Linked DNA regions of Homo sapiens. The protein of the gene in region 1 interacts with the protein of each later gene in a biochemical or structural test. Each region holds a gene or a part of one and is shown in the gene's direction. Other genes may lie near its edges. The genes, in order: CREBBP, KAT2B, CREB1 and STAT1.

The links.
Region 2: the proteins of CREBBP (region 1) and KAT2B form a complex in vitro, tested with the Homo sapiens proteins (4 studies listed by BioGRID).
Region 3: the proteins of CREBBP (region 1) and CREB1 form a complex in vitro, tested with the Homo sapiens proteins (15 studies listed by BioGRID, with this or other methods).
Region 4: the proteins of CREBBP (region 1) and STAT1 form a complex in vitro, tested with the Homo sapiens proteins (5 studies listed by BioGRID, with this or other methods).

What each region holds. Positions count from the first base shown.
Region 1 is NC_000016.10:3,730,462-3,738,359, reverse strand, and holds part of CREBBP (CREB-binding protein), read left to right. Parts: intron 1-1,544; coding exon 1,545-1,710; intron 1,711-2,156; coding exon 2,157-2,324; intron 2,325-6,422; coding exon 6,423-6,584; intron 6,585-6,886; coding exon 6,887-7,168; intron 7,169-7,898. UniProt on the Homo sapiens protein: Acetylates histones, giving a specific tag for transcriptional activation. Mediates acetylation of histone H3 at 'Lys-18' and 'Lys-27' (H3K18ac and H3K27ac, respectively).
Region 2 is NC_000003.12:20,036,215-20,044,089, forward strand, and holds the start of KAT2B (histone acetyltransferase KAT2B), read left to right. Parts: upstream 1-4,231; 5' UTR 4,232-4,263; coding exon 4,264-4,566; intron 4,567-7,875. UniProt on the Homo sapiens protein: Functions as a histone acetyltransferase (HAT) to promote transcriptional activation. Has significant histone acetyltransferase activity with core histones (H3 and H4), and also with nucleosome core particles.
Region 3 is NC_000002.12:207,525,113-207,533,385, forward strand, and holds the start of CREB1 (cyclic AMP-responsive element-binding protein 1), read left to right. Parts: upstream 1-4,849; 5' UTR 4,850-5,022; intron 5,023-8,273.
Region 4 is NC_000002.12:191,010,991-191,018,836, reverse strand, and holds the start of STAT1 (signal transducer and activator of transcription 1-alpha/beta), read left to right. Parts: upstream 1-4,665; 5' UTR 4,666-4,819; intron 4,820-5,158; 5' UTR 5,159-5,312; intron 5,313-7,846. UniProt on the Homo sapiens protein: Signal transducer and transcription activator that mediates cellular responses to interferons (IFNs), cytokine KITLG/SCF and other cytokines and other growth factors.

The sequences.
Region 1 (7,898 bases):
TTTCCCTACCTTTACTTCCTTTTCATTCCCTTTTTTTTTTTTTTTAACTTTATTGAGGCAAAGTTTACATATCATAGAATTCCCCTTTTTTGGATATATGATTCAGTGGTTTTTAGTAACTTTACCCATTAGTGCAACTATCACAAGTCAGTTTCAGAACATTGTTATTGACCTATAAGATCCCTCCTGCTGCGGTGGATCACCTGAAGTCAGGAGTTCAAGACCAGCCTGACCAACATGGTGAAACCCCATCTCTACTAAAAATTAAAAAAAAGGCCGGGCGCGGTGGCTCACACCTGTAATCTCAGCACTTTGGGAGGCCGAGGCGGGCGGATCACAAGGTCAGGAGTTTGAGACCAGCCTGACCAACATGGTGAAACCCTGTCTCTACTAAAAATACAAAAGTTAGCCGGGCATAGTAGCATGAGCCTGTAATCCCAGCTACTCAAGAGGCTGAGGCAGGAGAATTCCTTGAATCCAGGAGGCGGGGGGTTGCAGTGAGCTGAGATTGTGCCACTGCACTCCAGCCTGGGCGACAGAGCAAGACTCCATCTCAAAAAAAGAAAAAAGAAAGAAAAGAAAAAAAGAAAAATACAAAAAAAAATTGGCTCACCTAGTCTGTAATCCTAGTACTTTGGGAGGCCAAGGCAGGTGGATCACCTGAGATCAGGAGTTCAAGACCAGCCTGACCAACATGGTGAAACCCTGTCTGTACTAAAAATACAAAAAATGAGCCAGGCGTGGTGGCGGGTGCCTAGCGTAATCCCAGCTCCTCAGGAGGTGGGGGCAGGAGAGCCACTCGAACCAGGGAGACAGAGGATGCGCTGAGTCGAGATCATGCCATTGCACTCCACCCTGGGCAACAACAATGAAACTCTGCCCCCCGCCCGCAAAAAAAAAAAAAGAAAAAAGAAAAAAAATGTTCCTCCTGCCCCTTGCTGTTAAACCTTCCCTGCCCCAGGCGACCACTAATCTACTTTGTCTCTCTGAATTTGTCTTTTGTGAATCCTTTGTGTAAACGGAACCCTGCAGCGTATGCTGTCTTGGGTCTGGCTTCCTTCTCTAGCCCTTGGTTTCTGTACTCTAGACCTGCCCCATTCCCTTCTGAAACTTGAAAAGGATAGGGGCATTTGATCAAAGTGTCTTGAACAGAATGAATGAGGTTTATGTTGACATTGACCCTTGGAGAAAAATAGTCAACCGAACTGCCTTTACAGTGCACAGGAGGAAGGGGATGGCATTGCCTTGATGAGCCATCATATTCCCTGGTTCTTTAATGAGGCCTCAGGTTTCTTTTGCAGCCTCGGCCCTGCCCTGTGTGTGCACCCCAAGGGAGAAGTGTTGCAGGGCTAATTTGCAGGCTTGCATTTGCTCAGGATAAAGTTCGAGCCTTGCCCCCACCACACCCAGCTTTGTGGGCATTCATTCTCTCTCTCTGGTTACTTCTGTCCTGGCTTTAGTCCTTGCTCCTCTGCTATAACTCCTTAAAGGCAGGGCCGATTTCACTGGCACGTTCATCTGACGTGTGTGCGTGGGTCCTGCAGGTATGTGACAGGGCACATCTGGGCCTGTCCTCCAAGTGAAGGAGATGATTACATCTTCCATTGCCACCCACCTGATCAAAAAATACCCAAGCCAAAACGACTGCAGGAGTGGTACAAAAAGATGCTGGACAAGGCGTTTGCAGAGCGGATCATCCATGACTACAAGGTACCCGGCGCTGAAGGAAGGTGGTGGCTTTTGTCACAACTGAGGGGAGGATATTTGTGTGCCTTTTTCTTGCATTCGCATACTTGTTAATTACCTTCACTTATGAGGATTAGAAAGCAGAAAAATAAAAGCCTAAAGTGAGAACTTAGAAGCATTTTCTTCAGCTGATTGAGGCTTTCCCCTGGCCGTCTGAGAGCAGCACAGTTGGAGCTGTTTCCATCAGTGGGCATTGGGGCCTGTGCATCACTGTTGCACACATAGGGGCTCCAGCACTGTGGTGGGGGGTGCACATGTGTGGGGGTCTGCTGCACTGTGGTGGGGGGGCACACATGCATGGGACTCTGCCACACCATGGTGAGGGGCACGCTTGCGTGGGGGTCTGTCGCACCATGGTGGGGGGCACGCGTGCATGGCCCTCATCTCACTGTTGTGCTTTGCCCACTCAGGATATTTTCAAACAAGCAACTGAAGACAGGCTCACCAGTGCCAAGGAACTGCCCTATTTTGAAGGTGATTTCTGGCCCAATGTGTTAGAAGAGAGCATTAAGGAACTAGAACAAGAAGAAGAGGAGAGGAAAAAGGAAGAGAGCACTGCAGCCAGTGAAACCACTGAGGTACAGACCCTTCTCTGAGCTCCATTGCCCACGTGTCCCGCTGGAGCTGCAGGGTGGCAGGCTGGGAGGCGCGTGTCGACTGTTAGGTCCTTCCTGTGGTGGTGTCTCCGTTCACACATGCACGTCGACACCACCTGCAGCACAGGGCGTTGGTGGGCAGCAGTGTGGGCTCTGCACTCTCTGCACAGTGGATGCTCTGGGGAGCTGGGGGTCCACTTAGACTCGGAGAGGGAAGAGAGGAAGACAGAAAATGGGACATGGGGCAGTCAGGACACAACCCGCTGATGTAAAAAGTGAGTCGAGGAGGCACAGGGTTGCCAGGCCTTATTCCGTGTTTGGTGGCCACTCTGCACATGATGCTCATGCCCTGCTGCCCTCTCTCCTTGGCGCTGCCCCTGAGTGCCAGGCAGTGCAGACTGAGCCAAACAAAACCCCATCCCTGGCCAGGCGCGGTGGCTCACACCTGTAACCCCGCACTTTGGGAGGCCGAGGCAGGCGGATCACAAGGTCAGGAAAGGGAGACCAGCCTGGCTAACACAGTGAAACCCCATCTCTACTAAAAATACAAAAATTTAGCCGGTTGTGGGAGGGGGCACCTGTAATCCCAGCTACGAGGGAGGTTGAGGCAGGAGAATCGCTTGAACCCGGGAGGCGGAGGTTGCAGTGAGCCTAGATTGCGCCGTTGCACTCCAGCCCAGGAGACAGTGCGAGACTCCGTTTCAGAACAAACAAAACCCCATCTCCGCCCCCAAGGGAGTGGCTGTGTCCTGGTAGGATGTGAAACAAAAAGAACCCAGACCCAAGCATGGTGTGCTCTGAGCGTGGCAGAGCTCTGAAGGGGAAGGAGCCTTGGGGAGGTGGCGTGTGGGCCAGACCCGCCCACCACAGGAAGGTGCTGGAAGAGGACCCGCCAGGCGGTGGGAGGAGGCGCGCTGTGTGCGGGTTTGTGCGGCTGTCTGGGGAAGAGATGATGGTGGCGTGGGTGTGGGCTGTAGCTGTAGGTGCAGGGAGAGCGATGACGAACGTTGAAGGCTGCAGCCCCAGAACTTGGGACAGGCGATTGTGACCAGTGAGGAAAAGCGGTGAATGGAGGTGGCTCTTGCGTGGGCTGCTGCCATGGGTGAGGCAGCCGGGAGCCGGCTGGGGACATACTGCCACTCTGGTGCCTGTCCCATATGAGAGCACGTCTGTGAGGTGGGTGCCGGATGGGCTGTAGGCGGAGCGTGGGGCCTGGGCCGCTTCCGCCACACACACTCGTGCTCACTGCACAGGTGGTTGAGAGGCAGCCACCTGCTGGACGGCGCCCCAGAGTGTCATTCGCAGGACAGAGGAGGCGCGGGCAGGGGGTGGCGTGGGTTTACGCCCTAGGTGGCTCCTAAGCAGAGCTCCTGGCCTGTTGTCTTCGGACTTGCTCCCGCTGGAGTGTAGCTGGTCTCACTGGTGTCTGGTGAGTTAATGCTTGAGTTCCATCTCCTAAGGGTGACACGGGAGGTTACCGCGTCCGAGACAGGCTTTGCGCAGCTGAGTTCCACCCCAGGAGGGGGCACCTGCCTGTGGCATGGCAGCAGTGGGGTTGTCCAGAAGACAGGCCTGATAGGGGCTCCTGCTGGGGCAGCCTTCCCTGTGCACCGGGGACATGCATGTGTTAGGAGGCGGGATGCTGAGGTGTCGGCATGTAGACCTGCTGTCCCTTGTGTGTTTGGTTCATGGACAACAATGGGCAGGGACATGCCTTCGTCAGCAACACCCCAGGAGCTCGCTCTGGGGGTCAGCCTTAGTGAGGGCTGGTGCGTGGGGTGGAGCACTGCTTTGCTATTAGCTCTGCTCTGCATCATGCTGTCAATTCTGGGAAATGGGGAAAGGCTCGCGATAGTGTCAGGTGGGGCGAGAAACGGAACCAGCTCCCTGTGTGCAGTCCCAGCTTCGTGAGGAATGTCGCAAACACGGAGACAAATGTGCCCAGGGAAAGCTCCAGAACACAGAACACTGCTGCTCGGGAAGACCAGAAAAACAAAACTTTTTAAAATTACTTGTCTATATTTTCTTAATTTCATGAACATATTTATTTTATAATTTTGTAAAAATAGACTTCCAGGCCGGGCGTGGTGGCTCACGCCTGTAATCCCAGCACTTTGAGAGGCCAAGGCAGGTGGATCACTTGAGGTCAGGAGTTTGAGACCAGCTTGGCCAACATGGTGAAACCCCGTCTCTACTAAAAATACAAAAATTAGCCAGGTGTGGTGGCGCACGCCTGTAGTCCCAGCTACTTGGGAGGCTGAGGCAGGAGAATCACTTGAACCCGGGAGGCACAGATTGCAGTGAGCCAAGATTGTGCCACTGCACTCCAGCCTGGTGACAGAGCGAGACTCCATCTCAAAAAAAATAGGCTTCCTTTGTTTTAAGGCTGACACAAAAATTGAGCACAGAGTTCCAGTATATTGCAGCACGCAGTTTCTCCTGTTACTAATGTCTTACCTTAGTGTGGCACATTTGCTGCCACGGTGAGCCATTTGTTGATGTTGATGCATTATTGTTAAGTCTACACTTCGTTCCAATTTCCTCAGTTTTCCCCTGACGTCCCTTTTCTGTCTCTGAATCCTGCGGAGGACCCACGTGATATTTGGGCTCCTCGGGCTGCTTGTCGGTGGGGTGGGAATTTTTTTTTTTTTTTTTTGAGATGGAGTCTCGCTCTGTCGCCCAGGCTGGAGTGCAGTGGCGCCATCTCAGCTCACTGCAAGCTCCGCCTCCCGGGTTCACACCATTCTCCTGCCTCAGCCTCCCGAGTAGGTGGGACTGCAGGCACCCGCCACCACGCCTGGCTAATTTTTTGTGTTTTTAGTAGAGACGGAGTTTCACCGTGTTAGCCAGGTTGGTCTTGATTTCCTGACCTCGAGATCCGCCTGCCTTGGCCTTCCAAAGTGCTGGGATTACAGGTGTGAGCCACCCCGCCCGGCTGGATTGTTGAATTCTCTCTGGACTGACCCCTCTCTTTGAACACCAAGAGTCTCTCTCATCTTGTTAAAAATGAAACTCTCTGGCTGGGCACGGTGGCTCATGCCTGTAATCTCAGCACTTTGGGAGGCTCAGGCGGGCGGATCACCCGAGGTCCGGAGTTCAAGGCCAGCCTGACCAACATGGTGAAACCCCATCTCTACTAAAAATACAAAAATTAGCTGGGTGTGGTGGCAGCACCTATAATCTCAGCTACTAGGGAGGTTCAGGCAGGAGAATCGCTTGAACCTTGGAGGCAGAGGTTGCAGTGAGCCGAGATCGCGTTATTGCACTTCAGCTTGGGTGACAAGAGCGAGACTCTGTCTCAAAAAAAATGATAGGTAGCCGGGCATGGTGGCGGGTGCCTATAATCCCAGCTACCCAGGAGGCTGAGGCAGGAGAATCACTTGAACCCAAGATGACACCACTGCACTCCAGCCTGGCAACAAGAGCAAAACTCCGTCTCTCAAAAAAAATAAAGCTCTCTGTTAAAGTGTAAGTGAGTGGTAATCCTGCGTTCTTTCCAGAGGAGGAGCCTGTGGGCTGAGAGCAAGCCCACCTTCAGCCAGTCAGGCGCAGCACTGATGGCCCCAGCAGGGAGCCAGCCTGCTCTCCGTGGGCCTTGAGTGGACCCCGCAGGGGCCTCAGAGTCCCTGCTCTTGATGGGGCAGCTGCTTTTCCCATCAGCAGCTTTCCTGTCTCCTGGAAGCTCTCATGCTTTCTCGGGTGTGTAGAGCCTTCCTCAAGGCAGACAGCTGCTGACCACAGTTGTGACGTGGAATCTTCCGCATCTGGTTGTGGCACAGTGGAAACAGCCCCCACTGCCCTCATTTGTTAATTTCTGAACTCGCACTCTGGGTCTCTTTTCCCCTTTAGAGGCAGCGTGGCATAAAGCTGATAATGACACCAGCCTGGCCGAGGACAGGCCCTGCTCTGTCCCGAAGGCTGCAGCACCTACAGCCACCTGTAGCCGTTCACGTATGGGGTCTGCCTGGTGGTGACCTACTTTGGCCTGAGCTTCCTGATGCCCACGGCCTGGGAGCTGGGCGTCCGTGCCAAGTGTGGAGGGGCACTTGCCTGGTCTCACAGCCTTGCGTGTTGTTGCAGGGCAGTCAGGGCGACAGCAAGAATGCCAAGAAGAAGAACAACAAGAAAACCAACAAGAACAAAAGCAGCATCAGCCGCGCCAACAAGAAGAAGCCCAGCATGCCCAACGTGTCCAATGACCTGTCCCAGAAGCTGTATGCCACCATGGAGAAGCACAAGGAGGTAGGCGTGGGCTGCGGTGCTGCAGCCGTGCCTCTGGCCGGGAGGAGGGAAAGACTCGCAGCTGGCGGGCGTGGGCCCGTGTGCAGGTCTGTGGTGGGAGGGAAGTGGCCCCCAGGAAACCAAGTGGACCAGTTGGGTGACATCATGCAACGTGTCACCAATTTTGTTCCATCCCAAGGCATCAGGGCCATCAGGCTCAGCCACCTGCCTATTCTGCAGGCTGGGTGGCTGCGCCTGCCCTGAGCTCACCACTGGAGGTGCCATGTCCCTTGTGTGGGACTAAAGCCCCTCCTCTCCTGCAGGTCTTCTTCGTGATCCACCTGCACGCTGGGCCTGTCATCAACACCCTGCCCCCCATCGTCGACCCCGACCCCCTGCTCAGCTGTGACCTCATGGATGGGCGCGACGCCTTCCTCACCCTCGCCAGAGACAAGCACTGGGAGTTCTCCTCCTTGCGCCGCTCCAAGTGGTCCACGCTCTGCATGCTGGTGGAGCTGCACACCCAGGGCCAGGACCGCTTTGTCTACACCTGCAACGAGTGCAAGCACCACGTGGAGACGCGCTGGCACTGCACTGTGTGCGAGGTAGGCCCTGCCCCCACCCCCACCCCCACAGCCGGCCTGGGGTCTGACGAAGCATCCTGTCCCTTTGCATGGGTGCCCGGGTTGGTGTCTGTACCTGATGGTGGCTGCACTGACTCCTCCAGAACTAGGACAGCGTCACAAGGCAGAAGGCGTTGCTGTGTGTGTGTTTCCTAAACCTGCTCTGTGTAGCCACAGCCACAGGCCTGACCCTGGGGACGGCCAGAGGGAGGCTCTGCTGGGAAGTCTGGCCTGTCTGTGCCCAGTTCTAGTCTTGCTAAATGGCTGGAAACACCCGCTGTCCTGTTGGCAGCTTGGGCCCCTCTGGCCACTTGTTCCTGAAGGACCCCCCGGTCATGCTCCCTCACTCCCCTCTAGGAATTTTGACCCCCCTGTGAAATGACGTGGGTGTCCCTTGCATGGGCCGAGTCAGGCTGTGCAGGGCAGGCAGGTGACAGATCCCACCATCCCCCTCCCAGGACAGTCACCATCACCTGCCAACCCGGAGCCTCCTCACTTGCTGTGGTGTCTGTAGCGGGGCAGAGCGGGTCCTCAGCAGAGCGAGGGCCTTTCTTCCCTCCCCACCTTCACACACTTCTTCCGCTTTCCACCTTTCTCCAGTCTCCTTTGTCCTCTTTCTAGTTTCTGAATGCGGCAGTTTTCATATCTTTTTGTGAACACAGTCATGGTACCTGGTCCTAGGGCTCCATCAGGTTGCCAGGTGCGAGCAGTT
Region 2 (7,875 bases), on another chromosome or scaffold:
ATCCCAACACTTTGGGAGGCCCAGGCAGGAAGACTGCTGAGGCCAGGAGTGAGAGACCAGTCTGGGCAACATATTGAGACCTTGTTTCTAATAAAAATTGGAAAAAAAAAAAAAAGTAGCCGAGTGTGGTGGCACATGTCTGTAGTCCCAGCTACTTGGGAGGCTCAGGTAGGAGGATTACTTGAGCCCAGGAGGTCGAGGCTGCAGTGTGCCTTGATCATAACACAGCACTCCAGCTTGGGTGACAGAGCTAGACCCTGCCTCAAAAAGAAAAAAAAAAAGGTTGAATAAAATAGCACTAATGGCGCTGGGCATGGTGGCTCACGCCTGTAATCTCAACACTTTAGGAGGCCAAGGCGGGTGAATCACGAGGTCAGGGGTTCGAGACCAGCCTGGCCAACATGGTGAAATCCTATCTCTACCAAAAATATAAAAAATCAGCTGGGCGTGATGGTGGGCGCCTGTAATTCCAGCTACTCGGGAGGCTGAGGCAGGAGAATCGCTTGAACCCAGGAGATGGAGGTTGCAGTGAGCCGAGATAGCGCCACTGCACTCCAGCCCAGGCGACAAAGCGAGGCTCTGTCTCAAAAAAAAAAGAAAGCACTAATGGTATTTGGGGCATGGTTAAGATTCACACTGGAAATGATTTAATTCATAAATGCTTGAAAACTAGGGAAGGGGATTTTATGTTTCCTCATCCTAGGATTCATTTATTATTTTCAAAACTTTTTTCCTAGGAGGATTTATTTTATTTAATTTAAAATAAATGTTCAGTAATTATAGCCACTTCCCTCAGAGGAAGGTTGGCCCAAGGAGCCCCACTTAGGCATTGACATGTCTCTTTATTTTACACTCATATCCAACTGCTGTTTCTAAAAGCAGGTGTCTGGGAAGAATGTCAGTCATGGTCCATGTACTGGGCCAAACCTGCACTTTGACCACTTGATCTGTACCCTTACAGTCTGTGCCTTTACTGGGGATAATTTCAATCCATCTGTGGGATTCAGGGTTACTGGTACATTACAGAAGCTGTATAGCCTTGGTAGGAAGGAATATGGCAAGAAACTCTGCTAGATGATATAACAATAGATGGCCACAAAACTTGCCTTTTTTAGGAAGGCATCTCTGAGCAAGGAATACCAGATGAATAGGGTTAGCCATGCTGTTTGGTGGAGGGTATCCACATAGTACAGCAAATGCAAAGGCCCTGAGGTAGGAAAGCATTTCCTGAGTTTGGCTGAAGTATACTGCAGCACCAGGGAGAATGGGAAGGGGTGGACCTTATCAACTTCTTGTTATATAATCTCGTGTTCTGAAGTTGAAATTTTATTTTATTGCTATGTACCTTTTTAAATCTTTCCCTTACTTTTGAATTTCCCATGCATTTATTGAACATATACAAAATTGTGCTTATATGTCAATGTGAGTTTGTTTTTAACATAAATGGTATTATGCTGCACTGAGATTTATTCAACAGTGTTTCTTAGAGATCTATGTTATTATATTTTTATAAAGGTCATTGTGTATAACAGGTATAAAATATTCTGTTGTGTGAATATACCACAAGTAACCTCCAGTGGTCAGCCTGCCTCTACCATGCCCACTCTCCAAGCTTTTATTTTCTGAATGTAGCTTCTTTACCTCAGTAAGTGGTAAATACTTTGTAAATGAAAACATTGCCTTTTATTTTCTTGGTAGTTATTTCTTAAAAGTACTGTGTGCACAGAAAGAGCACACTGAATGCTTACAACAACCTAATTATGGAAAAGCAATAAGCCTCCTGAATCCTTTGCCCTTGAAATTTCCTTGCCTGGTGCTCATAACACACTTTGAATAGGTCTTGAAACCACGGGCCTTCAGCCTAAGGCAGTATGTCATCTGGGTACTCTGAGCAGGGAAATAATGAAAAATAATGTTCAGTTAATGGCACAAGCCATTCGCCACTCAGACAGTGATGGTTTTCAGAGTGGATTGAAAGGAGATTGGCTACTTCTGCTTCAAAACATCCTGGAAATTGTCTGCCTCCTGAATTCTGAGGGACGCTTGGGAGGAGGAGTTGATAGGTGACTTAATGTTAAATCTGGGTTCCCTCCCCCAATTGTCACTGTGAAAATTTTCAAACATACAGAAAAGTTGAAAGAATTGCGCACTGTGCCCATTACCTAGACTCTATTATATGGACCCCTATTTGCTTTATCATATCTCTGTTCATCCACCCTTTACCCATGCATGGAGGCATCCATACATCTTATTTTTGATGTATCTCAAAGTACAAAGAGCACCATTAGAGTTCAATGCTTGTGATTTTTCTTTTTTTAAAAATTTTTGAGGCAACATTTATATCCAGTGAAATGTACAGATCTCAAGTGGATCATTCCATCAGTTTGACAAATGCCTGCAAGGTGGAACCCAAGCTCTTATTAGTATCTGTTAAATCCATGTTAGAGGTTGATCAGAGAAGCACAGCCTTTAAGACTCTCACCCTGCTTTGCGGAGAATGGCAAAAATCTGCGAAACATCTCAGCAGAGCCAGGAGAGAGTAACACTGGTAACGTGAAGCACGTCAAGCTAAGAAAGGAAGCACTGAAATTAATTGTCCTGAATGGAACCTGATAAGAATCTGCCATTTCATCCCCTCAAGACTGGACTCAAGTTGGGAGAGAATATTGCCTTTTGCCCTGTCTAAGCTAATATCACTGTTTAGATCTACAAACTCCCCCACCTCCCAATGTTTATATATTAACCTGCATTACAAGTCAAAATAACACAGAGAATCTGGAAAAAGAAGAAGGGGAATGTTTCCCACGAAAAGCACACCCCTTAAAGCGTCTGGCCTGAGAGCTATACAGCATGCATAAAATCTGATAATAAGCACATTATGACCCACATTGCATATAACAAAAAGTAGGGCACTTCTGAAGGGTCCTGAGAAAAAGCCCTGGGCTTTTAAAACCTGCTTAAGAAGGCGATCAACGGTACACCACTTTCAAACGCAGCACTGACTTGTATGCTCCACAGTCATCAACAGTGAAAACAACAGTTTTCAACAAGAGTTGGAAACACTGAGTTGAGGGTTTTTTTTTTCTTTTTAAAGTTTGAGGCCAAAATCGATATTTATTCTTTTGAATTATGCTTATATCTTTTTCCTGGTTAATACGCACGCGGTGGCACAATTTTGAAAACTACGTAACGTTATAGAACCACCACCCAGAAACGAATCCTGTTAACAAACTTTTTGTATTCAAACTTTTTCCACTGCATAGTTTTTGACAATGCTTTTTAGACAATCTTTCTTTTAGCAACCAGCACTTTCAAACAAAAATTACAGAGAATAGTAAGTTTTTTTCCCCTCCTCCGGCAGATTTGACCCAGAAATTGCTATGGGAAGAAAGTGTTAATTATATTAAAAAATAGTTTGACAGAAAGTATTTAAAAAGAGAAAGGGAGAACATCACGTCTTTATTTTGGTGAATTAGCAACAAAGAAAAAGATTAGCATGGACGGGTACTTTTCAAAAATATATTTTTTTTCCTCTGGCTCCCGCTAGGGTGGAGGAAGTTGTCTCTCTGTCAGAGACAGGGTGGAAGAGAGTGAAAGGACAAATGATTGAGAGGCTGCCCCCTCCCACTGGTGCAGGCGTGCGGGGGTCGGATGGGGGGCCGCGGAGGGGGGAGGTGGCCAGCAGGTGCCTGGGCTCCAGGCCCCTACCCCCACCCTCGTCCCCACCCTCACCCACACCCAGGGATTGGCCTCGCCCCCTGGCGGGCGAGCGGTAGGTGTCGAAGCACTGGGGTGGGGGGTGCAAACCCCGCGGGCAGCGGAAAAGAGGCCGTGGGGGGCCTCCCAGCGCTGGCAGACACCGTGAGGCTGGCAGCCGCCGGCACGCACACCTAGTCCGCAGTCCCGAGGAACATGTCCGCAGCCAGGGCGCGGAGCAGAGTCCCGGGCAGGAGAACCAAGGGAGGGCGTGTGCTGTGGCGGCGGCGGCAGCGGCAGCGGAGCCGCTAGTCCCCTCCCTCCTGGGGGAGCAGCTGCCGCCGCTGCCGCCGCCGCCACCACCATCAGCGCGCGGGGCCCGGCCAGAGCGAGCCGGGCGAGCGGCGCGCTAGGGGGAGGGCGGGGGCGGGGAGGGGGGTGGGCGAAGGGGGCGGGAGGGCGTGGGGGGAGGGTCTCGCTCTCCCGACTACCAGAGCCCGAGAGGGAGACCCTGGCGGCGGCGGCGGCGCCTGACACTCGGCGCCTCCTGCCGTGCTCCGGGGCGGCATGTCCGAGGCTGGCGGGGCCGGGCCGGGCGGCTGCGGGGCAGGAGCCGGGGCAGGGGCCGGGCCCGGGGCGCTGCCCCCGCAGCCTGCGGCGCTTCCGCCCGCGCCCCCGCAGGGCTCCCCCTGCGCCGCTGCCGCCGGGGGCTCGGGCGCCTGCGGTCCGGCGACGGCAGTGGCTGCAGCGGGCACGGCCGAAGGACCGGGAGGCGGTGGCTCGGCCCGAATCGCCGTGAAGAAAGCGCAACTACGCTCCGCTCCGCGGGCCAAGAAACTGGAGAAACTCGGAGTGTACTCCGCCTGCAAGGTACGCGCTCGCCGCTCTCGGACCGCGGATGGGTGCTAGGGGCCCAGCCCGCGGGACCCCCCTCCCCCTCCCGCTTCCACCTCCGCCTCCCGCCTCCTGCCTCTCGCCTCCCGCCTGGGGCCGCTGCACCGCGGAAGTGCTCTTGTCGCCCGCGCCCAATTAGCTTCTTCTTGGATAAGAGTCCTGCTGGGTTTGAAGAAGGGGGATCACTAAGACGGAGAGCCCTTCATTCCTTCCGCTTGAAAGGAGTAGCTTCGGCATCCGAGCTCCCGGGCTACCTTGGGGTTTTGTTGCTCTGTAGGAGCTCGCTGGAGTCACTTTCCCGGGAGTGGAGCGGTGCTCTCCATGTGGCGGGTGACCCAGGGGCAAGGAAAAATCTTTTGGGGGACTGAGTGGTCCCTTCTGCAATCGATCCCTTCCTGTGTCCCACTGGGAGGAACTGGGTGCAAGGAGTGGGGGTGGAGAAGACTCCCGGACTCCTGGCGCTTTGGGAAAGCGAAGGGGAGGAAAGCGCGGGGTGGGAAGGTGGGCAGAGTCCGAGGCGAGGGTCTTGTGGTGCCTGGCGCCCTCGGCTGGGGGCGGAGGCACTGCCGCGCGCGGTGACAGCCCTGTCATTATTGTATTATTACTTGTTTAGTTAAAACGCTGTCCCAGCTGCTCGAGGTGTAAACAGGATTTGGCAAAGTGACAGCCCAGCGCGGCGGGCGCTACTGCTCAGTTTGAGGACACCCATTTCTTGCTACCCACTCTCCATGCCAGTTTAGGCACCCTGTCACCTCCAGCTGCAGATCCAGATGTGGAGGCTGTGTTCCCGAGGTGGGAGGATTGCCCGAGGCCGCGGGGCAGGCTGGCCCTGCGCTGTCAGCAGCGGCTTTGTTTTGACAGGGTGACAGCTGAGGGGGGCGGGGACTTGGCCTTGTCAGCTCCTGCGGCCTGTGGCTGAGGCAGGGAAGAGACACACTCACACACACTCACACCTCCCTGTATTCTTCCTGCCTGCTGTAAAGAGGGTCAAGTTCCCAGATTCCAGATTCCCGATTGTCACAACCAAGCTGCAGTGACCACTTCTGAATTTTGACATAACTATAATTTATTCTACTAGAACATCTAGGTTATACTCTTCTTGGTACTTGCAGGAGCTTCTCAGTCACAATGGAATGTCTATGCTTGCTCTTTTTCCACACCATATGCTCAGGTTTATGTTAAGCACCTCTGTATCCTACACTGGTTCAATAAATATTTGTTGAGTGAATGTAGGATCTAGCCCAGTGCTCCTCAAACTTTAATGTGCATGGGAATCTCCTGGGGAAGCTGGTTAAAATGCTGATTATGAATCAGGTGGTCTGAGGTGGAAGCTGAGAGTTTGCATTTCTGACAAACTCCCAAGTGATGCTATGCTAGTCCACAGACCACATTCCAATTCAGACCTGGACAATATATTATTTGTCCCCTTTGATTTTAGCAGAAAAGACAGAAACAAATAATAATGCTATGTGGTTATTTCTGAAGAAGGAATGCAAAAAAGATGAAGTGGGGAGTGTGCTTCTAAGAAAGGTGCAAGCCCAGGAGTTGATCATGAAGGGCATTAGACGAATGAGAACAGGACACCGACTGTAGTAGGCAGAAGGGCGAGCTATGTACAGAATTAAGAACAAGGTCATGGGTACAGGGCATACTGCTTGGGTGATGACTACACCAAAATCTCACAAATCACCATTAAAGAACTTATGTAATCAAACACCACCTGTTCCACAAAAACCTATGAAAAAAAAGAGCAAGGTCAATTACTTGGTGGCCTTGGCGTTTCGCAGCCAAAGTGGGCTCATGCAGGAACTGTCTCAACTCAGTGTTTCTGTTCTGGCTTTATTTTAAAATTTATTTATTGGGTTCTCATCACCAGCACCTCTTAAAGACTTCCTGCTGCCTGCTGTAGCTTTAATATCTGAAAACTTTCCTGAAGTTTTGGTTTTGTCTAAAACCATGAGCATATGTGGCCTGCATTGATATTTTTGATCTTTTCAAATTTCCATGGGTGAGATGTAGCACCACTTCCAAGTGGGATTTGAGTGTTTCCTGGTCACTTTCATGACCCAACAAGAGAAAGAGAAAATTTATTTTAACGTCTTTTTTTTTTTTTGAGACAGGGTCTCACTCTGCCACGTAGGCTGGAGTGCAGTGGCATGATCGTAGCTCACTGCAGACTCAACCTCCCTGGGCTCAGGTGATCCTCCTACATCAGCCTCTTGAGTAGCTGGGACTACAGGCATGCGCCAGTACACTATTATTATTATTATTTGTATTCTTTGTAGAGATAGGGTTTCACCTTGTTGCCCAGGCTGTTCTCAAACTCCTGAGCCCAAGCAATTTGCCCGCCTTGCTTCCCAAAGTGCTGAGATTATAGGCATGGGCCACCATGCCTGGCTGAAAGTGTTCATTTTTATGTATCCATTCATTCAGTAAATATTTAGAGGGTTACCAACTGGGTGTCAGGCATTGGGCTAGGTGCTGGGCCTATGACACACAGAATTTGTCCTTCAGGAGTTACTTATTGTGTGTGTGCACAAGTGCATGTGTGTGTATGCATGTGTTGGGGGCCTAGGGATGAGGGCAGTGAACCAAAATTACAGAGAAGTTCAGAAAAACTACTTTCTTGGAGTAGTTGCGGACCCAGAGCAGGACAGTTCATAGACTGGGGCACTGGTAGGGTGGGATTGGCTTCCTGGAGGAAGTGTCAGTGGCTGCTAAGAACTCTTGGCAGGGCAGAGTGGGGTGGGGTGAAGCTTCTTGTAGTGGAGAAACTGAAAGCAGTTGTGGAAGCTTGGAGGTGGGCCAACTGAGCCAGACCTTTGTTGCCTAGGGCCACCGGCTGGGGTGCGTGGCCAAGAGGGCACTGAGGAGTGCAGGAATCTTAACCTGGAGAGTGACATTATCTCAGATTTGCTTTTTTTAAAAAAAAAAAAAATTTAACTGGACTTGATTGGGTACGAGGGAGTGTAAGAGAGCAAAATCTGTGGTTCTCTCTCAGCTTGTTTCTGCACTTAATATGAGCAAGCCCAAAAGGACAGATTGCTCTACCTTTGCCACAGGCCCCTTGGCAAGTTAGATTAGAGAGATTAGAGAATGAGGAGGGATCTAGAAAGAGATAAGGTAGTTCACTGGGGGGCTTTTGAAAGAAAAACAGGTCCCAGGCCTGATATAAATCTGGCCTTTAAACTTCACAAACGAAACCAAAAAAGAAGGGAGCTAAGTCAGCCAGGGTGACGTGCCACACCCCAGAGAATAGAAAAAGAAAAAAAAAAAAGAAAAAAG
Region 3 (8,273 bases), on another chromosome or scaffold:
CTCACCCAGAAGTATTTATTTATTGCTATCTATTATATTAAGACTATAGGAAATCTTACCAAATAAGAAAGAAACCCATAATATATCCCCCTCCTTGCTTTAAGGCACTAATCCCATTCACAAGGGGTTTACCTCCCAAGTAGAGAAGTTGAAAATGTTAGGACATTTGAGAGGAAAGACAATCTGTTTTATTCATAATTTCCCCAGTCTCTAGAAGAATGCCTGGCACAAAGGAGGTGCTCCACAGATATTTTTAGAATAAATGAAATAGGTCACCATGGTCTTGGGGTTAGGTAGGAAAGCAAATCACAGGAGGTGATGAACTAGGGCAGGCAGGGTTCATGGAACTTGAGCTCACAGTGAGGGTGAAAATTATATTCGACAGCAGAAATGAGCAAAAAATAACAGGAAGAGGAAGTTGTGATTATAGAAAAGCTCTCAAATACTACTTTCTCTTTGAAGCCTTTTATAATCATCTTATGGGACCTTCCCCCTATTCTGGACCTCTTTCAAGATACTTTTCTTATACTCTATCAAGTTACATCCATGTGTGCTCCTCTTTCATCTCCCTGATATTGACCACATTTTGCAATTGGAAAACTGAGTCAAAAATGGGGGATCACCTGTAGTCCCAGCTACTCAGGAGGCTGAGGGCAAGAGAGTCACTTGAGCCCAGGGGTGTGGGGCTGTCACATGCGATGACCGCTCCTGTGTACAGCCACTGCACTTCAGCCTGAGCAACACAGCGAGAGACTGATCCTGGAAAAAATTTCTTTTAAAATGCAGGTGGCTTCCAAATCCCAGAGACAAAACTTGGATGCTGAAAGGAGAAATGTCAGATAGTGAGATTGAAAATGCTAGAGTATATCCGAAGAGAGAATATCCAAGAGAGAAATGTCAAAGTAGAGAGGCTGAAAATCTAGAGTATACCCAAAATGTTAGTAGTAAAATAACTTGCATTGGAATGAATGGATGATTGAATAAATGAATGAACAAAGTTAGGTGGGAACGGAGGTCATTTGAGCAGAAGTCAAGAAGAATATATGTTTTAATAATTGTTTGAGGCCCACTGGTCTGACAGTAAGGGCCCAAATGAATAGGGAAAGCTAGCCTCCAGTTAGAAGACACCTAGGAAGTTAGCAAAATAATCAATGATAATAGAGTCTAAATGAAGGTTAGTGTATATAAAAAGGAAGAATGAATATGAGGACATTTTTAAATAAAAACTCACCATATTTGGTGGGTGATAATTATAGGTTATGAGTAAATAATTCCAAAGTTTTTTGATATCATGTATAGAGCCACGGTAAGAAGAGCAGGAAGATGAACTCAATTTTGAAAACGTATTTGACACGAGGATAAGCTATCCAAGTAAAAGCTAGTAATAGGCAACATTTTTCCTAACATTGTTCCAAGTATACTTCACATGTATTATGTCACGTAATCATTACAATAACACTATGAGGTGCTATTATCATCTTTATTTTACAGATGGGAAAACTGAGGCACAAGAGTGAACAATTTGCCCAAAGTCATTAGCTAATAAGTGGCTGAGCCAGTGCAATGAATTCACCCCCACCCCTGTCTCCTGCAAATTCGTATTTTTGAAATCTTCACCCTCAATGTGATGGTATTAGGAGATGAGGCCTTTGGGAGGTAAACCCCTTGTGAATGGGATTAGTGCCTTATAAAAGCAACCCGAGAGCTCTTGCTCTCTTTCTGCATTGTGAGGTAAAGGGAAAAAACAGCCATCTACAACCCTGAAGAGGGCCTTCACCAGAACCTGACCATGTTGGCAGCCTGATTTCAGATATCCAGCCTCCAGAGCTATGAGAAATACATTTCTGTTGTTTATAAGCCACCAGTCTATATGGTACTTTACTACGGCAACCTGAACTCACTGAGAGCCAGGATTTGAATTCAAATGTTGAGAAAACTTTGCCCGGGACCACTCAGAAATTCACTATTTATTCGATAAATACCTAACAAGTACCACTATATTCTAGACATTGTGCTGTTGCTAGGGAGAGGAAAAGCTGGTAGTGAACAAGACAGACGTGGTCCTTACCTGCACAATTACATGGACACTAAACAAATAATGAGAAGTAGGAATTGGAAAAGAAAGTGATAAGTTACAGTTAAGTAGGAGGAATGGGTGACAGAAAAAAATTCCAGGGGAAGGGAAGGGCATGTGTAAATGCCCTGAAGTGAGAGCCTACAGTAGGGAATAAAAAGAGGAGAGCCTGGAAAAAATTAAAATACTATGGCAGGAGTGCAGGCAGCTAGGGGGACAGATGGAGAGGCTGGAGAGAAAGACAAGTACAGATAATGGAGCTTAGACAATGTGTGGTAAGCAAAGGGAGACCACTGGAGGAATTTAAGCAGGTCAATGATCAGATTTATATTTAAAAAATTACTCTGGCAGCAGTATGGCAAATGTATTGGAACGAGGCAAGAGCAGTTTTGGAGGACCTGAATGGGTTACTGTGGGACTTCAAGCAAGAGGCAACAGTGGTTTAGACTAGAATGGGAATGAAAAAATGGTCATGGGAACAGAGAGAGGTCACAAATCCAATTTTCCAGGGAGCAGACAGATGTAGGTGATTCTGCTGTGTGTTGGAGGTGTGCTAGGTTTCTGGCATGAACTGGGTAGATGTTAAGATACCCTTTACTGAACCAGGGACTATGGGAGGAGCGTTTTGAAGGAATTATGATATACGGGTTGAGTTTGAAATGCCCTAAGTCATCCAAATGAAAGTGTACCAAAGGCAGTATGCTGGGAACTATGAATGTAGGATTCCAGAGCAAGATCTAGGCTTGAGTTATGGATTGAAGAGTCTTTGACAGAGGGTATTTGATGCTGCTGGGAGAGCATAAGACCACCTAGGAAAGTGTATGGGGAGACTCAGTAAGAGGGCCAGGGTTCAGCTCAGCATGATTCCAATGTGTAAGAGGTAGATCAAGGAGGAGCTGGTTGTTAAAGAGCAAACTCAGGTAGGGAGGAAACCTGGGACATAAGACCAGAGGGAAGAGGGTATTTGGAAGCAACTGTGGTCAATCGCGTCAAATACTGGGATGAGGGCTTGTAAAATGAGGACTGAAAATGATCCGCTGCATTTACAGTCATGAAGCTTGTCTGTGGACAATTCAGAGCCACTTCAGGTGAGCGGTGGGGACACTGGAGAGGGCTGGGAGGTGGGACATGAAAGACTGTCCATGGGGTAAGAGACAGCTGCAGTTGTTGGAGAGCAATTTAGGGAGAAGAGAAATCTTTTTAAAGAATTGAAAGACTTAAGCATGTTTAAATACCAGTAAGAAAGAGCCGGTAGAGAAGGAAAGGTTGAGAGTAACAGAAGGAAAGGAGACTCGTTAAGGGCAAAGTCCATAAGAAAACAGTAGGGTACCTGGAGTACCAGGAAGGACAACTCTTTCTTTACAAGAGAAGTGAGTCATGGGCGGAGTCCAGAATCGAACCCTCTCTGCTTCCTAAAGACACGTCTCCTTTAAAGGACAGAAAAAGAATGATTAAGACTTGAGGCCGGGCGCGGTGGCTCATACGTGTAACCCCACCACTTTAGGAGGCCGAGGCGGGTGGATTACCTGAGGTCAGGAGTTCCATACCAGCCTGGCCAACATGGTGAAACCCCGTCTCTACTAACAACACAAAAATTAGCCAGGTGTGGTGGCAGGTGCCTGTAATCCCAGCTACTAGGGAGGCTGAGGCAGGAGAATCGCTCGAAACCGGGAGGCGGAGGTTGCAGTGAGCCGAGATCGTGCCACTGCACTCCAGCCTGGGCGACAAGGGCTAGACTCCGTCTCATTAAAAAAAAAAAAAAAAAAAAAAAGACTTGAAACCCCAAGGAGAGGGCTGCAGAGTTCACTATCAAGGAGAATGGGGACCTAGTGGTGCCGTCCTGAGAGACCTCTGAAAGAACAATTCAGTAGTTTCCAGCCACGGAAGTCCCCCTGCTGGGTTTAGGGTGCAGTGGGTGCGAATCCCTGCTGTAGAAAACAGGCTGAGGAAAGAAAGCGACACAGGATGTTGTCTGGAGAAAGGCGGGGAGGTAGGATGGGGCATATTTCCAGGGGTCCGGGCAGGTTGTGTGGCTTGGAGGCCTCCGAGGGCCGTCGACGTCAGCCATGGTCCGGGCAGAGCCCCGCAAGGTGCCACAGTATCGGGGCCAGCGCCCCCCGGAAAAGCATGCTCCGCTGGCGGCCGCCAGGTTTCTCCGCGGAGTCTCGGAAAGGAAAACCCGTCCCCACGGGGGTCCCACGACGCCCCCGGGTCCCAGGCCCCGGGACGTTGGCAGAGGCGCAGCAGACCTTCTTCCCCAGCCCGCACGGCTCCAGCGGTCCGGCCGCGTCCCAGCCCGGGCTGCCCGTCCCCCGTCTCCCGGCGGCGTCGGAAAGTTCCCGGGGCTGGCGGCGGTCAAGAGCAGAGCCAGGGCAGCCGCAGCCGCCTTCTAGCCCGCCGCTCACCGCCGCAGGGGCAGGCCTGAGCGGGGGTTTCCACCAAGTCGCCGACACCCCTCGGGAATTCCCCCACTGGGCCACACACAAACCCCGCTTCCTCCTTCAAATTTCCGCTGCCGGCTTTACCGATGCGAAAGCCGCGGTGGAGTTTAGACCACTCCTCCCGGCGCCGGGCTCAGCCCGCCTTCGCCTTCCCTCTCCCCGCGGAACCCCTTCTCGTCGCCCGAAGAAACCCGAAGGTCTTCGGCAAGTTCCGTCCCCAGCGCGGGGGCGGGGCCGCTCGAGCTGCTCCGGGCCTAGCTCGGCTGTTTCCGTGCGCGGCCGCTGCGCACTCGGCACTGGGCGGCGCTGGCTGGCTCCCTGGCTGCGGCTCCTCAGTCGGCGGCGGCTGCTGCTGCCTGTGGCCCGGGCGGCTGGGAGAAGCGGAGTGTTGGTGAGTGACGCGGCGGAGGTGTAGTTTGACGCGGTGTGTTACGTGGGGGAGAGAATAAAACTCCAGCGAGATCCGGGCCGTGAACGAAAGCAGTGACGGAGGAGCTTGTACCACCGGTAAGAGGAGCAGGAGGAGGAGGCAGGAGCCAGAGAGAGCCGGGGGGACGGAGGGGGGACGGGGAGGCGCCGGACACCCGCGCTTGGGGCCTTCCCCTCGCAGGAGGGGCCGCGGTAAAGATGGAGCCTCCGCCCGAGCCCCACAACATCGCCGCCGCTCGCAGCGAACAAAGAATAATGGCGGCGGACTGGAGCCAGCGGCGGCCGGGGCGGCAGCGACTCTGCCTGCAGCCAGCGGCGGCGCTCATGGCGGGGGGCGGCGGGCGGCGGGCGGCGGGCGGGGTGGGAGCCGGCGGCCGGGGGTGTGTGCGGGCGGCCGGCCGCGGCGAGCTGGCGCCCGCGTTCCCGCCGCCGCCGCCGGGCCGGGCGCGGAGCCGGGAACCCGGAGCCGCCCCGGGGGAGGCCGCCCGCTCGGCCCGGCGCTGCCCCCCGCGCCGCTCGCTCGTCCGGCCCCCGCCGCCCGCCTCGCCCCCGGCCCGACCCGGCCGGGCCTCCGGGGCAGCCGCCGCCTAGGTGCCGGTGGGGGATGGAGGAGGAAGAAGGCGACAGTTGAGGGCAGAGGAGGTGAAGGTGCCTGCTGCCTTCCCGGTGGCTTCGGTGCCTGCCATGCCCGCTTCGCAAGGGGAAGAGCTGCAACGTCTGACCTACTCTTCTCTCCACTCTTTGTGCAATAAAGTTCGAAACCCAAGGTTTCCTCTCGTGCTGTATTTTATTCGTGCCCTTTCCCCCCCGCTCCTACACCGTTGAGGAAATGCTGCTTTCTGCCCTGTGTTGCTTAGTTGAGAGATGAGAGCTTGTGCTTTTGGGGGGAATTTTTGACTCCCTCACCCCTTTGCTTTTTTTTTTTTTTTAAAGTCAGTCATGGAAATGCATGCTTTTTGGGAGAAAGGGTGCTAAGAAAAACATTTATAATAACTTTTTAAACTGTTGGGATCTTATAAAAGGGAAGCTGGTGTTTGAAAACAGTTTCGGTTTTAACCCTTTTTAATAAGGTAATCATCACTTGAGATCTATCATTCTGAAACACTTCGTTGGAACGAGTATCAGCCGATGTACTCTTGTTTTACATCATTTCGCGGGGTGCAACCTTGCCAACCGCGTTTGGGTCATCTGGATCTCCCCTCACCCTCCGTCCCACTCCCCCTACCATATTTCCCACGAATTTCTGTGTGAACTTTAATGAGAGATTGATTTAATACTACTACTAAAAATAGACATTAAAGTATCCATTATTTGTCTCATGCAGTAGGTAACCCCCGTCTTGAGATTGACAATTTAAGCCACAAGCTGTATTTTTTCTTCGCCTGTTGGGAAAAGAGGACAGCAGAAAAGTCATTGACACATTAAAAATTAAAAGACAGTTTTTGAAGGACGTGCGGTATGACCTATTTAAGTTTGTAATACCATCTCAAGTTATAATTCTAACCTCAGCTGGCGTCTAACTTCTGAAGGTTTAGTAGAAGATACTTTTGATTGCTGCCTATTGAAATCTTTTACATTTATGGCTCATTTCGTGATTTAAAAGTAAAGCCCCGAACAGTTATTTTAGGTGGTGCAAAAGACGAACAAGTTTGTTTTAAAAATACTTGTCTGTCACTGTATGATTGCATTGTGATTGATACGTACAAACCTTCTGGTTAAGAACAAATATTGATTGGCAGCAGAAGCACTGTCTTATTTTTCTGTATTCTAGTCACTTTTCCAAAACGTGCTTTGCTGTATTGCTTCTCTTTAAAAGACCACATTGGCAATTTGTCATTTCCAAGAAAATTAAGAAGAGGCAATAAAGGCAGGTTTTCTATAAAGATTGGGGAAATGATTTTATTTCCGAGCACTGAAAAAATTATAGTATTGATAATGGTAGCTTACCATTTTTCCTTTATGTTGTTCCGCAAGCCACTATCAGTAGAGTAGAATTTTTTTTCTTGTTAAGAATATAAGTCGGGCGCGGTGGCTGAGGCCTGTAATCCCAGCACTTGGGGGGTCGAGGCGGGCGGATCACTTGAGGTCAGGAGTGCAAGACCAGCCTGGCCAACATGATGAAACCCCATCTCTACTAAAAATACAAAAATTAGCCGGGTGTGGTGGCACGCGCCTGTAATCCCAGCTACTCGGGGGGCTGGGGTTGCAGTGAATTGAGATCGTGCCATGCACTTCAGCCTGGGCGACACAGCAAGACTCCGTCTCAAAGAAAAAAAAAAAAAAGAAAGAATATATGACTCTTCATTTGTGAGATTTTTAAAAAATTGTTCACTGATGGCCGAGTGCGGTGGCTCACATCTGTAATCCCAGCACTTTGGGAAGCCGAGGCAGGCGGCTCACGAGGTCAAGAGATCGAGACCATCCTGGCTAACATGGTGAAACCCCGTCTCTACTAAAAATACAAAAATTAGCTGGGTGTCGTGGCGCGTGCTTGTAATCCCAGCTACTAGGGTAGCTGAGGCAGGAGAATCTCTTGAGCCCAGGAGGTGGAGATTGCAGTGAGCCGAGATCGCGCCACTGCCCTCCAGCCTGGTGACAGCGAGACCCCATCTCAAAAAAAAAAAAGTTTACTGATAAGTTCTTTCTTTAGTCTTGCCCGAGAGATATTTTAAATTGTATTTTTTATTTTTATTTTTATTTATTTGTTTTTTTGAGACGGAGTTTGGCCCTTATTGCCCAGGCTGGAGTGCAGTGGGCTGGTCTCGGCTCACTCACTGCAAGCTCCGCCTCCCGGGTTCAAGCAATTCTCCTGCCCCAGCCCCCCGAGTAGCTGGGATTACAGGTGTGAGCCACCGCGCCCGGCCTGTTTTATTATTTATACATTCATAATTTGTGATTCTTAGCAATTCCAGGTGAAACTTCAAACTTGTATTCATTAATACTTGAACATTCACCTGGAACATGTTACTAAATTGTACTTCTGCACTGTTCCAGCCATGGATAAAAATTACAGCTGGATCTGCTTGAATCTTTTTTTTTTTTTCATGAACACCTACATTTAGAAAGCTAATAAATTACTTGACAGAGTTTGCTTGAAGAATGTTAAAAGAACACTTCTTTGGGAATTTAAAACTTAAGTGTTACCTGTTTTGAATGATTTTTTTTTTGTTTACATAAAGAGCCTGAAGAAACTTAGACACCTGATCCATAAAAATGGCACCTTTTTCTACTTTCTGAAACTCATATTCTTGATTAGGTCTCATTATTAGAAATTTTGGGTTCTTCATAGAGAAGTAGCTTTATTTCTCTCTCATTCTAAGACATTTGGT
Region 4 (7,846 bases), on another chromosome or scaffold:
AAATCTGAGGTCTAAACTTGAACAACTACTGTGATTCAACTGTGGTCTGTGTGGTCTCTCATGCTCCTGCAAGCTAGCCGGACTTCTCATGGAGGCTGGGCAGGGTTTTGAGAGCGGAGTGTGTAAGGCCTCTTGAGGCCTAGACTCTAAATGTCACAATGTCACATCTGCTGCAAGGTGGGGAAATAACAGAGCAGGGAATAATCTGGCCATTATTGAAAATCATTGATCAGGAGAGCCTTCTTAGTTTCAGTTTCATATAATGAAAACTACGTAACTGATATCTTTTTGCCCTGGTTTGCAGGCTGTACTGTATTCTTTATCTAGTTATTGTAGATATTTCTGCTATAAGTTGCTTTAAAATGCTTTGTGCAACAAGGCAGATAAACTAAGTAAATAGAACTGGATGATTTGGGTATAAAAGAAACAGTGAGTGAAGAATAGGAATGATACTGTCTTTTCTCCAAGCAAAATACAGTTCCTCCAAATGGGAAGTGTGGAGTAGTTCTTAAGTCTTTCTACTGTAACATCATGTGAACTTATGAGTTACTCCGGTGACTTCACATCAGTTACTCATCATATAATAGTATTTTCTGGATTCCTCACTGTCCTTGACTCTCCTTTGTCTGTACACCAGTTCAGGGGTGGCAAATAGGAAATTTCACCTTACCTGTTGCTTCTGATTGATTGCTGGTGACAGTGTACCCTGTCATTTGTTGCTCTTTTAAATCCAATACAAGTAGTTGCATTTATTGTTTTAAATGTTGTCCAGTTGATGGGAGGCTGAGGGAGGAGAATCGTTTGAACCTAGGAGGGGGAGGTTGCAGTGAGCCAAGATCGCGCCACTGCACTCCAGCCTGGGCGACAGAGTGACACTTGGTCTCAAAAAAAAAAAAAGTTATCCAGTTGAGGCCAGGCACAGTGGTTGACACCTGTAATCCCAGCACTTTGGGAGGTCAAGGCAGACAGATCACCTGAGGCCGGGAGTGTGAGACCAGTCTGGCCAACATGGCAAAACCCTGACTCTACTAAAAATACAAAAAATTTGACGGGTTTGGTGATGTAGGCCTATAATCCCAGCTACTTGGGAGGCTAAAGAATGAGAATCGCTTGAACTCAGGAGGCGGTGGTTGCAGTGAGCCGAGATTGCACCAATGCACTCCAGCCTGGGCGACAGAGCGAGACTCTGTCATCAATACATACATACATACATATATACATACATACATAGTATCCAGTTGGTTTCAGACCAGCAGCAGTCCGTTAGAATATTTAGATTATTTAGAATTTTGATTTAGCGTGGGAACCTGAGGCATGCTGTCTCCTAGCAGAGGGAAGGAGCACACAAGAACAAGTTGATTACAAAGAACACGCAGTTTCAGGACAGATGGTATATACATCACAACTGTTCATATTCCTTTATCCAGAACAAGTCACATAGCCAAGGTCAGAGTTACAGCACACAGAGAGGTATACTCCACCCTTAGTGAACCATGGCAAGCAGTGGGAAGGGACAGAAGAGATTTGAAAATAGTACAATCTACAGACATAGTGTTAGCTGTTTTTTCTAGTTTTGTGTCTTTTGCAAATCTGACATTGTTGATATATAGATATAGCTTTCCAAGCTGACTGTTATAAGGCAACCGTCACACATTTGTATCTGTCAAATTCTGGATTTCTAGGTTTTTGTTTGGCTTTGGTTTGATTGCTTTTTGAAGCAGTCAATATGTTATACAGTAAGAAAATATAAATAGTTTATCCTTCAGGAATATTGAATCTTGGAGGCATAAGGATTGGACACTTCAAAAACCATAATATTAGAGAGTGTATAGTTATTGTCCAAATAAATAGAGACACATATATTATTTGGTCATTCAGAGACCCCAGATTAATTGCTACAGGTTGAGGTGGTTCTAGAAAGAGAATATAGTATTTGGGCTGGGCTTTAACAGGTGAATAAGAATTTGGTAAGTGAAGAGAGTGAGGAGCAAGACTTGCCATTCAGTATGTACAAAGGGGCAGAAATCAGGAAATTAAAAGCATGGGGGGAGTGCTGGAGCTAGACGAGGTTAGTTGGGAAATGCGACAATGATAGAAAAGGCTGGAAAGAAGGAAAGAAACATTTTGTGGAGGATCCAGACTAGCAGACAACATTTGTGTTTATCATATGTGCAAGGAGAGTTGTTAAGGCTTTTGAGCAGGGAATGACTATATCAATGCAGTATTTTAAGGAATTGAATTTGGCAAATATAGTGAAGGAGAAAGAGACAAGAAAAAGGTAGTATACCTAGAGATTAGCATAGCATTCCAATTCTCAAGTGATGAAGGCTTATGGTAGGTATTGCTGTGGATGCTAAAATAAAGGGGGGTAGGGAAGGAAGCATCCACAGATCTTGATGATCCAAATTGGGATTTGGAGTGCCAAATAATCCTATTTGCAGATGTTAGGATTATTCCATTCCTTCATCAATATTGAAGCTAATATCTGTGCAAGTTTTATAGTACCAGAAAAAAAATTTTTAACATGTAATCTACCCTTCCTAGAGTCAACTTTTGATATAGTTTGGCTGTGTCCCCACCCAAATCTCATCTTGAATGATAACTCCCACAATTCCCACCTGTCATGGGAGGAAACTGGTGGGAGGTGATTAAATTATGGGGGCGAGACTTTCCTGCGCTGTTTTTGTGATAGTGAATGAGTCTCGAGGATCCGATCATTTTAAAAATGGGAGTTTCCCTGCACAAGCTCTTTGCCTGCCGCCATCAATGAAAGATGTGACTTGTTCCTCCTTGCCTCCCGCCATGATTGTGAGGCCTCCCCAGCCATGTGGAACTGTAAGTCCATTAAACCTCTTTATTTTGTAAATTGCCCAGTCTCAGGTCTTTATTAGCAGCGTTAAAAATGGATTAATACAGCTTTTTTCAGAGAACAGTAAAACATTGTCTTGGTTCTTGGGTGAGTAAGAGCAGAAGGGACACTTTTGGTGCCGTGGCATCTCTTGGCAGAGAAGTCTAATTTCACTGCTAACTTGCTTTGTGAGGGTGCATTTGTGACAAGAAGAACAAATAGATGTGCAAAGAAAAAAAACTCATACACACACATATAGGCATATCCATGGGAAATTATTCAGATCCTTCTCCTACCCCAAAGTGCCTAATTATTCAAGGCTTGACTCAAATCCCGTCTACTTGAAGGAACTAATTGATTTTATGAGCATATAGTCCAAAAAGATTTAGTTTGTCTGGCTTCAGCAATGCCTACCTGGAGAAGTGACATTTAAGCTGAGATTTTTAAACTAAGATCTAAAAGATGAGTTAGCCAGCGAAGAGTTGGGTGAAGCAGATGTTGGCTCAAGGGGTTTTCCAAACTCAGGGTGAGAAGTCCCTGAGTTTGGAGAGTGTGGTTTATTTGAAGAACTAAATGCTGAAGTAAGCAAAGCAGAGTGGCACATTATGGGGTTGGACAAAGAGATCGGGCAACCAGGGCTTTATAGTATGTATTAAGAAACTGAATTTTATAAGAGCAAAGAAAAGCCATGGAAGGATTTTCAGGTTGGCAAATGACATGATCTGCTTTTCAATTAAAAAAAAAAACACTCAAACTCTTGTATGGAGAATGGATTAAAAGGTAGATAAGGGCTGAAGTGAGGCAGCCATTCGGGAATCTACTGCAGAAGGAGGCAGCAGAAGAGATGGAGCAGAGTAAATGAGACTTGGGAAATATTTAGGAGGAAGAATCAATTAAGATTTGAGGATCAGGTGTTGCGAGGTGAGGGAGAAGGCAATGTCAACTATGAATCCTAGGTATCTGTCATGTGCCATTTCTAGAAAAAGAGCAGGTTTGAGGAGAAAGATGTTTGGTTCTGAACATAGTTTGTAGAGCTCACTGCACATACAAGTGGAGAGGCAAGTGGGAGTTGTAGGTGTGAAGCCCAGAGGAGAGGTGTGGACGGGATAAGCATTTAAGACTCCTCCATCTAGAAGGAAACTGAAGCTGTGGGTGAGGTCATCACAGCACAGCGTTTAGGAGAAGCCCAGGTAAAGAAGCTGACGAATGTCTGGACCCTGACAACCTTAACATATAATGGTTTGATAGTGGAGGTGGAGGCAATGTAGAAAGAATGCCAGAGGCAGGAAAAAGCAAGAAGGATGTGTTATCATCATGACCAAGGAAGAAACGTGTTTCAAGAACAAAGGCGTCAACTCTGCCCCATGCTTCCGAGCTGTCAAGTAAAGTGAGAAAAACAGAAAAGCGTTCCCTGGGTTTAGCAACACGGAGGTCAGTTGCTAAAGGGAGCTTCTAGAATGACGACGTCGCCAAATCTGTCCTCTGCCTGGATTCTCGGCGATGAAACTACTACAGAGACCTCCAAGTTTGGGCTTCTGCAAACACAGCACGTCCTTCTGATCGTTCTCTAAGATATGTAAACAGAACGCCAGTTCCCAGCGTGGCAACACGGGACTGGGCTGCAGCTCACCCAGCCGGCGGCCCCCGCCGGAAGCCGGCGGAAATACCCCAGCGCGTGGGCGGAGCAGCGGCCCGCAGAGGGAGGCGGTGGCGCCCACGGAACAGCCGCGTCTAATTGGCTGAGCGCGGAGCCGCCCGGTGATTGGTGGGGGCGGAAGGGGGCCGGGCGCCAGCGCTGCCTTTTCTCCTGCCGGGTAGTTTCGCTTTCCTGCGCAGAGTCTGCGGAGGGGCTCGGCTGCACCGGGGGGATCGCGCCTGGCAGACCCCAGACCGAGCAGAGGCGACCCAGCGCGCTCGGGAGAGGCTGCACCGCCGCGCCCCCGCCTAGCCCTTCCGGATCCTGCGCGCAGAGTGAGTGGCCGTGAGGTTCCGGGTGCCGGGGGTGGGACGCGCAGGGACAGAGTCCTCGGGCCGTGCAGTTGGACGCCGGGCGAGGACGGGCCGTCTGTGCTGACCCGCGAATAGTGATCCCAGAGGAAGAACGCGTCCTGAGTATTCCAAGTGCGAGCAGTGCCACCTGTTCTCGGAGATGGCACTGCTCAGCACGATTGTCCTTGCCAGTCGTGCTCTGGCAGTGAAGAGGACTTGTGAAATATAATTTTCCTCTAGAAGGCACTGCACCTTCCCATTTACCGTCACTTTCTCCCGTTTCCACCCCTTTCCATCAGTCACGTTTTCTTCTTTTCGCAGAAAGTTTCATTTGCTGTATGCCATCCTCGAGAGCTGTCTAGGTTAACGTTCGCACTCTGTGTATATAACCTCGACAGTCTTGGCACCTAACGTGCTGTGCGTAGCTGCTCCTTTGGTTGAATCCCCAGGCCCTTGTTGGGGCACAAGGTGGCAGGTCAGTAAATGTTCATGGAATCAGATGAATGAGTACATGACTTCGGAATCTTAATTATGTTTCTATGTTCAAAGATGGAAGGGCTTAATGTCTTCCTAGAGTTTAAAAGTGATGTTTAGTTTTTGCAGACCCCCCACCCCAAAATAATATAGTCTTAAAAAAATTTCTGGCCGGTACTGAAGAGTTCTGTGGTAGGTATGCAGAGGTGTGGTTGATTGTGCTTTGAATGTTGTTTGTATAGATAAGGAGTTATTTTCATAGAACAGAAACAGGACTTGAGCCTCCAGCACAGTCCATTGTGCAACCATTGCTTAATGAGGATGCTGGACTCACACTTGTGAGATCATAATATGGTTTGCTTTTTACTTTCTAATTCCGTCTGAAATATACATAATTTCAATTCAACAAACTGTTTCGAGCACATAGTATATGCAGGGCACTGTCCAAGGTCCATAAGATGTTAAAAAGCAAAATACCCCACTACTCTACCCCCTCCCCACCCACCTTCCCCCGCCGGGGACTCTGGAGGCATCACAGAGCTTTACAAGGAAAACTGGAACCGATGCTCTAATAGAGGTACAGAATTCAGTGAGACGCAAGTCAAAGAAAGCTTAATTGTGAGTAAGTCTCAGACAACTTTATGAAAGAAGGGGCTTTTGTACATAGCTTTGAATGCTATAGGATTTAGAGACGCAAAAATTTGTGGAGAGGCTGTTTCCAAGGGCGAGTAGCTGGAGCAAAGCAGAAATGTTGGGCACAGTTGAAAAACAGTAAATGATTTGGTGACTGGGTTGCTTTGTTGATGGATGAAGATGGGGTGGGGTGGAAATCTGCCTAGGAATGGACAGATCATAGGATTTTTGCACAGGAGATTGATGTGGTCCAATCTGTGGGCAGCAGAGGCTGGACTGGGAAGGTAGAATGTTGGAGACAGGAAGGAGCAGGTCTTGGGATGGAGTGGAAGGAATCAACCCTAAATCTGAGATTTGAGCTCAGTGACTGGGAGATGGCCATGCCACTCCCTGAGTTGGTAACAGGTTTTGTGAGTAGATGAGACTGACTCCAGATTTGTGAACATGAGCTTATTTATTCATTGTTTTTTTTTTTTAGAGACAGAGTCTCTCTCTGTCTCCCAGGCTGGAGTACAGTGGCGCGATCTCAGCTCACTGCAACCTCCGCCTCCTGGGTTCAAGCAATTCCCCTGCCTCAGCCTCACGAGTAGTTGGGACTACAGGTGCACACCACCATGCCCTGCTAATTTTTTTTTGTATTTTAGTAGAGACAAGGTTTCACCATGTTGCCCAGGCTGGTCTTGAACTCCGGAGCTCAGGCAATCCGCCCACCTTGGCCTCCGAAAGTGCTGGGATTACAGGCGTGAGCCACCTGGCCAGCCCAAACATGAGCTTATTAATTCACCTCTTCTGTGCCAGGTGCTACATATGTACTAGCTCAACCAGCCTTAAGAACCAACTGTGGCAGGGTGCGGAAGCTCACGCCTGTAATCCCAGCACTTTGGGAGGCTGAGGTGGAAGGATTGCCTGAGGTCAGGTGTTTGAGACCAGCCTCAGAAACATAACGAGAGGCTGTCTCTACAGAAAATTTAAAAATTAGCCAGGCTTCTTGGCTCGTGTTTATTGTATTAGTCTGTTCTCATGCTGCTATAAAGAACTGCCCGAGACTAGGTAATTTATAAAGTGAAGAGGTTTAATTGACTCACAGTTCTGCATGGCAGAAGGCATCTCTTCACGGGGCAGCAGGAGAGAGAATAGATGCAAGCAGGGGAAATGCCAGTGGCTTATAAAACCATCAGATGTCATGAGGCTCACTCATTATCACGAGAACAGCATGGGGGAGACTGCCCCCATGATTCAGTTACCTCCACTGGTCCCGCCCTTAACACATGGGAATTATATTACAATTCGAGGTAAGATTTGGGTGGGGGCATAGAGCCAAACCATATCACTTGCAGTCTGAGCTCCTTGGGAGGCTGAGGTGGGAGGATTGCTCTAGTCCAGGGGTTGGAGGCTGCAGTGAACTGCGCTCCACTGCCACTGCGCTCCAACCTGGATGACAGAGCAAGTTCCTGTCTACTAAACACACACACACACACCTTGTTGATAGGGGAGTAAGTTACCTGGGTTCGCTTGGCTAATAAGAGGCGTTGCAGCTCCCATTGCCTGACGGTCCAGCATATCTGCTTTAGGTAGATCCTTATTAGTTACCAAGCAGGGAGGGAGACAGCCACAGATTTTTCCACTCAGGTAAAATAAAACTGAACTGAAAAATCAAATTGCTTCAGCAGGAGTGCCAAGGGGCTGGGCTTGGGTCCGTTTCTACTGGTATATATGAGGATAACTAGCTTTATAGGCCAGACATTTCCTCACACTCCTTTGGAAGGACATTTGTGGAGTAGGCGTGACCTCATGCCTGCATACATGTGCTCGGCTACAAGTATGCATACACACTCTTCCATGCCCTACTTGAAAATCCAGACTCCTTCCCCAGAGGTCTGGCAGGACAAGATTCACTTGTGT